Linked DNA regions of Homo sapiens. Changing the gene in region 1 together with any one later gene gives a genetic interaction. Each region holds a gene or a part of one and is shown in the gene's direction. Other genes may lie near its edges.

The links. Genes that interact genetically often act in the same process or in processes that back each other up.
Region 2: of ATG10 (region 1) and FTSJ3, changing one suppresses a phenotype caused by changing the other (phenotypic suppression), as found in Homo sapiens cells (one large-scale study listed by BioGRID).

What each region holds. Positions count from the first base shown.
Region 1 is NC_000005.10:81,974,723-81,978,746, forward strand, and holds part of ATG10 (ubiquitin-like-conjugating enzyme ATG10), read left to right. Parts: intron 1-1,470; exon of another isoform or gene 1,471-1,605; intron 1,606-3,606; exon of another isoform or gene 3,607-4,024. UniProt on the Homo sapiens protein: E2-like enzyme involved in autophagy. Acts as an E2-like enzyme that catalyzes the conjugation of ATG12 to ATG5. ATG12 conjugation to ATG5 is required for autophagy. Likely serves as an ATG5-recognition molecule. Not involved in ATG12 conjugation to ATG3.
Region 2 is NC_000017.11:63,818,933-63,821,798, reverse strand, and holds the end of FTSJ3 (pre-rRNA 2'-O-ribose RNA methyltransferase FTSJ3), read left to right. Parts: coding exon 1-76; intron 77-155; coding exon 156-445; intron 446-683; coding exon 684-769; intron 770-860; coding exon 861-960; intron 961-1,360; coding exon 1,361-1,544; intron 1,545-1,625; coding exon 1,626-1,720; intron 1,721-1,804; coding exon 1,805-1,997; 3' UTR 1,998-2,366; downstream 2,367-2,866.

The sequences.
Region 1 (4,024 bases):
CTCCTGCCTCAGCCTCCTGAGTAGTGAGGACTAAAGGCGAGAGCTATGTCTCCAAGCTTCCTTTGAGTTTTAAGACTGTAAACTTCCTGCACCCTGTCCCCAGATTCTCAATATCCCTCAATCTATACTCTCCATTCAGGTTCTTTACTGGTCTACCTCATTTCAATCTGTTCCAAGGTTCACTGCCACTGCCCCATCCCTTCTATTTCTTTCTTTCTATATCCTCCTATAATTCAAGGATTAACTGAAATCTAACTACTGTAGGGCCCAGGCTCTGGTTCCAGACTTCCTTAGGTCAAATTACTACACTTAACAGCTGTGTTACCTTGGACAAGTTACCCTCTCTGTCTCAATTTCCTTATCTATAAAATAAAGAAAATCCTAGTAATTTACCTCAAAAAGTTGCTCTGAGGATTTGTTACTAGTTCTTAATACATAGTAATATATGCAATTTTAATTATTTTAATCCATACTAATTCTTTAAACAGTGGTTGTACAATTTATCACTGTTTTTTGTTATCCATTATTCTCTGATGTTCTTTTCAATGTGAATCTTTACTTAAAAATTTGATTACTTTGAGAAGAATGTGTATTCTGAAAAATAAAAAAATATTTGGTTACAAACTATTGAAGGCAAAGACTGTATTATACTTCTTTTTGAAAGTCTCTTAAACCAAGGCTGGGTACAGTGGTTCATGCCTGTGATTCAGCACTTTGGGAGGCTGAGGCAGGCAAATTGCCTGAGCTGAGGAGTTTGAGACCAGCCTTGGCAACATTGCAAAACCCTGTCTCTACAAAAAATACAAAAAATTAGCTGTGCATGGTGGTGCACACATGTGGTCCCAGCTACTCAAGAGGCTGAGGCGGGAGGATTGCTTGAGCCTGGCAGGTGGAGGTTGCAGTCAGCTGAGATGGTATCACTGCCCTCCAACCTGGGTGACATAGTGAGACCCCCCTCTCAAAAAAAAAAAGTGTCTCAGACCTCTCAGGATGATTTGGGGGCTCAGTGTAATATTTTTTTCTTCCCATCTTACTATCTAGTTTTCTTTTTCTTTTTTGTTTTTTATTGTACTTTTGTAGCTTAGAGTTTTAAATTTAAACTCAATTTTGTTCCAAAAGTATTTGAGGTAGCTTAAACTATATAATATATAATAACATACAAAATAAAGAGAATCAAGATCATAAAAATATGAAGCTTGAATAGAAAGATGTGATTAGGGTGAGTTATACTGAAAATATACTGTGAATGTTGTAGAGTTATTTATTTATTTATTTATTTTATCTTTTTTTTTTTTTGAGATGGAGTCTCACTCTGTCGCCCAGGCTGGAGTGCAGTGGCGTGATCTCGGCTCACTGCAGGCTCCGGCCCCCGAGTTCACGCCATTCTCCTGCCTCAGCCTCCCGAGTAGCTGGGAGTACAGGCGCCCGCCACCTTGCCCGGCTAATTTTTTTTTTTTTTTGTATTTTTAGTAGAGACGGGGTTTCACCGTGTTAGCCAAGATGGTCTCGATCTCCTGACCTCGTGATCCGCCCGCCTCGGCCTCCCAAAGTGCTGGGATTACAGGCGTGAGCCACTGCGCCCGGCCTGTTGTACAGTTATTAAAGGTAGGCCACAAAGTTCCAAGCTTCATGGTGGTCAAAGGAAAGAAGGAAACATATTTATTGCCCAGCAAAAACAGCTTCCTGTGTTAAAATAATTAATTGGGAGGCCATTGCCTGAGGAAGCTCCAGTGCCCTGGGTTCCTACATAAACAGACTTACACCAAACTCAGTGTAAATGGTTGTATTCTAGGAAAATGAAACTTTAGCTTAACCAATCAGAAACCATCAACTAACCTCTAACCACTGACTTTTACTGGAATGATCCAAGTAAGGCTACTCCACTTTGACCAATCACAGATTTTCTTGGCCTTGCTTCTGCCGTTCACTCTTCAAAAGCCTTCTAACTGTGTCCTTTTGGTGCAGCCCCATATTGCTTGCATTCTGGAGCTGACCAATTCATTAATATGCCTAGTGTTCCATTATTGGAACGCTAAGCTTGTGGGAGTTATTTATATCCTGCTCATGGTCATCGCCAAGGTCTGATTTTTCACAAAAAAAATTTGCAACCTCCAGCATAAATGGGTTAACCATTGTCTGCTTAAATAAACATTTTCTTGTTTTTGTTTTTTGAGACAGTATCTTGTTGTGTCGCCCAGGCTGGAGGGCAGTAGTGCAGTTATGGCTCACTGCAGCCTCAATTTCCTGGGCTCCAGCTATCCTCCCACCTCAGCCTCCCAAGTAGCTGGGACTACAGGCATGCACCACTATGCCAGGCTAATTTTTGTATTTTTTTGTAGAGGCGGGATCTCACCATTTGCCCAGGCTGGTCTTGAATTCCTGAGCTCAGGCAATCCACCTGCCTTGTCCTCCCGAAGTGCTAGGATTACTTTGCCTGACCTCAAATAAATCCTTTAAAATTTTAATGTGCCTTGGTTTATCTTTTAGCACCTAGTAAATATTTAGTGAGTGAAATGGAGATTGTGATCACAGATTTTAAAGGATACGCTGAGGCCCTAGAGTTAAATTCTCTAGACTTTGTTAATTCCTTACCTACTTCCCAGTATTTCTCAAAGGGAGCTCTACTGGCATTTTTACAGACAACTCTTCACTGTGTGGGATTGTCCTGTACATTGTAGGATGTTTATTTTACCTGGTCCCTCAGCACTAAATGGCAATGGCAAACTCTAACTTCTTTTTAACAATCCAATATGATCCCATTTATTTCCAAGCAGCCCCTTGAAGAGCGGGTTCCCCATAAAGTTGGGAACCATTAGACCTTATTTGCCCATACTCTTCTCCACCCGAGCTATGCTCCATCCACTGACATTTGTTTTATTTTTAAACCTTGCATTCTTTTCAGACCCTGTCTTTGCAGGAGCTCCTCAATCTTTTTGGAGTGACTTTGTCTCCACCTGGTTGGCCCTTACTCAAATTTCAAAATTCATTTCTTCAAGAATTGAATTCATGTGTTCAGAACTCCAAGTTTTGGAGTCTTCCCCAGTTTTGCCAGGAAGTTTGACATTCTTTTCTAGGAGGACACTCACAGCAAGCACTAGGGTATTGTAGGTACTGAGTGAATGAATGAAAAACTTGTGGAAATAGAAGGCACATTAGTCTCATCTCTGAACAAAGACTTTTGCAAGAAGAAAAATTTAAAGGGAATGTGCCTTTCATTACAAAAATGTCCAACCATTTCCTTTTTTTATTTTCCAAAATAAAAATATGGCACTTGGTAGTATATTTTAAAGACACTTTGCTCTGTAATCTGTATTCAGACTGGCACTGATTCTGTAGCTTCTGATATTGTGTTGGTCTTTTTTTTTGAGGCGGAGTCTTGCTCTGTCGCCCAAGCTGGAGTGCAATGGCATGATCTCAGCTCATTGCAACCTCTGCCTCCCAGGTTCATGCAATTCTCCTGCCTCAGCCTCCCAAGTAGCTGGGATTACATGTGCCCGCCACCACGCCCAGCTAATTTTAGTATTTTTAGTAGAGATGGGGTTTCACCATGTTGGTCAGGCTGGTCTCAAACTCCTGACCTCAGGTGATCCATCCACCTTGGCCTCCCAAAATGCTGGGATTACAGGCATGAGCCACTGCTCCTTTCTGTCTCTTCTTATTTTTTGGATACTTTTGGCCAAGGATACCCCATTATCTCCTTATTTCCTAATTCTGGATACTTGGCATATGTGCTGACTAGAGTTTGTTGTACTAGTCCTACTACCCACTGTTCAAAGGCAGCAAGAGAGTTTGAGCTGTGGATCAGCTCAAATTGTCATCAGTGGTGGAACATTTTTTCTTATGTGCTTGCAGAGTTTTATTAAAAAATTATCTTTTGATAAAAGTAATGATACTGGTATCAGAAAGATTGGATGTCATATAGATCTGTGGTTTTTTTTGTTGTTGTTTGTTTGTTTTAGAGACAGGATCTTGCTGTCTCCCAGGCTAAAGGGCAGTGTCACGGTCATAGCTCACTGCAACCTTG
Region 2 (2,866 bases), on another chromosome or scaffold:
GGAGAATCCACTGCTGGTACCACTGGAGGAAAAGGCAGTACTGCAGGAAGAACAAGCCAACCTGTGGTTCTCAAAGGTAAGGAGAGGCCGGGGGCAAGACTGCGGGGAGATGAGTCTTCCTTGGGAGAAGGGCAGCTGATGTTCTCCTATCACAGGGCAGCTTTGCTGGGATCGAGGACGATGCCGATGAGGCCCTGGAGATCAGTCAGGCCCAGCTGTTATTTGAGAACCGGCGGAAGGGACGGCAGCAGCAGCAGAAGCAGCAGCTGCCACAGACACCCCCTTCCTGTTTGAAGACTGAGATAATGTCTCCCCTGTACCAAGATGAAGCCCCTAAGGGAACAGAGGCTTCTTCGGGGACAGAAGCTGCCACTGGCCTTGAAGGGGAAGAAAAGGATGGCATCTCAGACAGTGATAGCAGTACTAGCAGTGAGGAAGAAGAGAGGTGAGTAGTTGCAGCTGAGAGAAGGGATGGAAAGGAAGCGGTGGCTTGAACCATTTCTCTAAATTGGGGGTTCTTAATCTTGGCTGCACATGGGGAGGGTTAAAAATACTGTACTGACGATCCTGATTTAACTGGTCTGGGGTACAGCCTGCATGGCAGGATTTTTGCAAATTCCGTGGGAGTGCGGTCTGAGTAGTACAGAGTGGTGGAATCACTCAGAGTCCTCCCCTCTTCACAGCTGGGAACCCCTCCGTGGTAAGAAGCGAAGCCGTGGGCCTAAGTCAGATGATGACGGGTTTGAGATAGTGCCTATTGAGGACCCAGGTGAGAGCTCTGTATGCAGTGGAATGAGAAAAGACCACTGGAAGTCTCAGTATTGGGAATTGAGCTTTGACCTTTCTCCTTCCCTCTCTAGCGAAACATCGGATACTGGACCCCGAAGGCCTTGCTCTAGGTGCTGTTATTGCCTCTTCCAAAAAGGCCAAGAGAGACCTCATAGATAACTCCTTCAACCGGTAAAGGGGCCATAAACTCATCAAGAGTGACCCAGGGTCTGGTGGGTAAATGGGTAATTTTTTGTTTTTGAGATGGAGTCTCGCTCTGTTGCCCAGGCTGGAGTGCAATGGCACGATCTTGGCTCACTGCAGCCTGATTCTCCTTGAATCGCTTGAGTCAGCCTTCTGAGTAGCTGGGATTACAGGTGCCAACCACCACGCCCAGCTAATTTTTGTATTTTTAGTAGAGATGGGGTTTCACCATGTTGGCCAGGCTGGTCAAACTCCTGACCTCAGGTGATCTGCCCACCTCAGCCTCCCAAAGTGCAGGGATTACAGGCGTGAGCCACCGTGCCCAGTCTGGTAATTTCTTTAGAAAGCCTGGAATGTTGGATATTAGACAGATGTCCTTTCCACTCAGGTACACATTTAATGAGGATGAGGGGGAGCTTCCGGAGTGGTTTGTGCAAGAGGAAAAGCAGCACCGGATACGACAGTTGCCTGTTGGTAAGAAGGAGGTGGAGCATTACCGGAAACGCTGGCGGGAAATCAATGCACGTCCCATCAAGAAGGTGGCTGAGGCTAAGGCTAGAAAGAAAAGGAGGGTAAGTGATGGGGCCTCCAGAGATTGGGTGGGGTGGGGGTGGGGGGATGGGGAAGAGGTCACCTGACAGGTTCCTTTGCAGATGCTGAAGAGGCTGGAGCAGACCAGGAAGAAGGCAGAAGCCGTGGTGAACACAGTGGACATCTCAGAACGAGAGAAAGTGGCACAGCTGCGAAGGTAATGGGAGGACACCACAAAGGTACACAGGGCTAAAAGTGCAGCAGAAAGCAAGCCTCTAACCTCTTCTCTTCCCCCCTGTAGTCTCTACAAGAAGGCTGGGCTTGGCAAGGAGAAACGCCATGTCACCTACGTTGTAGCCAAAAAAGGTGTGGGCCGCAAAGTGCGCCGGCCAGCTGGAGTCAGAGGTCATTTCAAGGTGGTGGACTCAAGGATGAAGAAGGACCAAAGAGCACAGCAACGTAAGGAACAAAAGAAAAAACACAAACGGAAGTAAGCAGAGCTGCCAGGCTCCCAGGAGAGCATGGGGACTAGGAGGAAGGGTGTGGCATGGCTCAGTCTGGCCCCCTTGATTACCGGCCTAGCCCCTGCTCACATCACAGCTGTCTGAAGAACAGTGAGGTGGAGTGCCTAGAACTCCCGTGGTGGTCCTGAGCAGAGAGGAGGATGTCCTCCTGCCTGCCTGAAGGTCTCCCATGAAAACACTGCTGAACTGTGTTGACACTCATGACCCTTTTTTTAAACCGTTAAAGGGAAGTTCGGTGTTGGAGCGATACTCAATGTAGTCAGTCTACACCTGGACGTGTGGGCCACTTAAGCCCTCCCCACCCCCATCCTATTCCTGAATAAAACCAGGATAATGGAAGAGTTGTCTTTTCTGACAGTTTTAATAAGCACTTCCCTATCTGTCCCTACACTGTGTGCGGCACTATTCTTAATATGTACCAATTCATAGACAGAAATGACAAACGATCCACAGGTCCCGGTAGTAAAACATTTACTAGAGAGCAAGCAGAAAGGAATGCACATCTTAAAGAAACCTTCACAAAGTCACAAAAGTCAAAGTTTGTATATTTCTTTTCCTTTTTATAAACGATAAACAAAAATCATCAAAATCATTTCAGCAAAAGACTTTTCTATCATTGGGGCAAGTTAAAAAAAATACAATGAGATAGAAGACACTTTAAAAGCTGTTGTTGGGTTTCTTGTTTAATTTTAAATTTAGCAATACCATCTCAAACCTGGAGCAATCCTGGAACAGTTACCAGGATCACCTTTTCCCTTCAATCCTTGTGGCTTCTGGGAATCTTCAGAGCCTGGGTCTGAAAGGTGTTTCCTACATGTCTCAGGGCTGGATGCAAACCT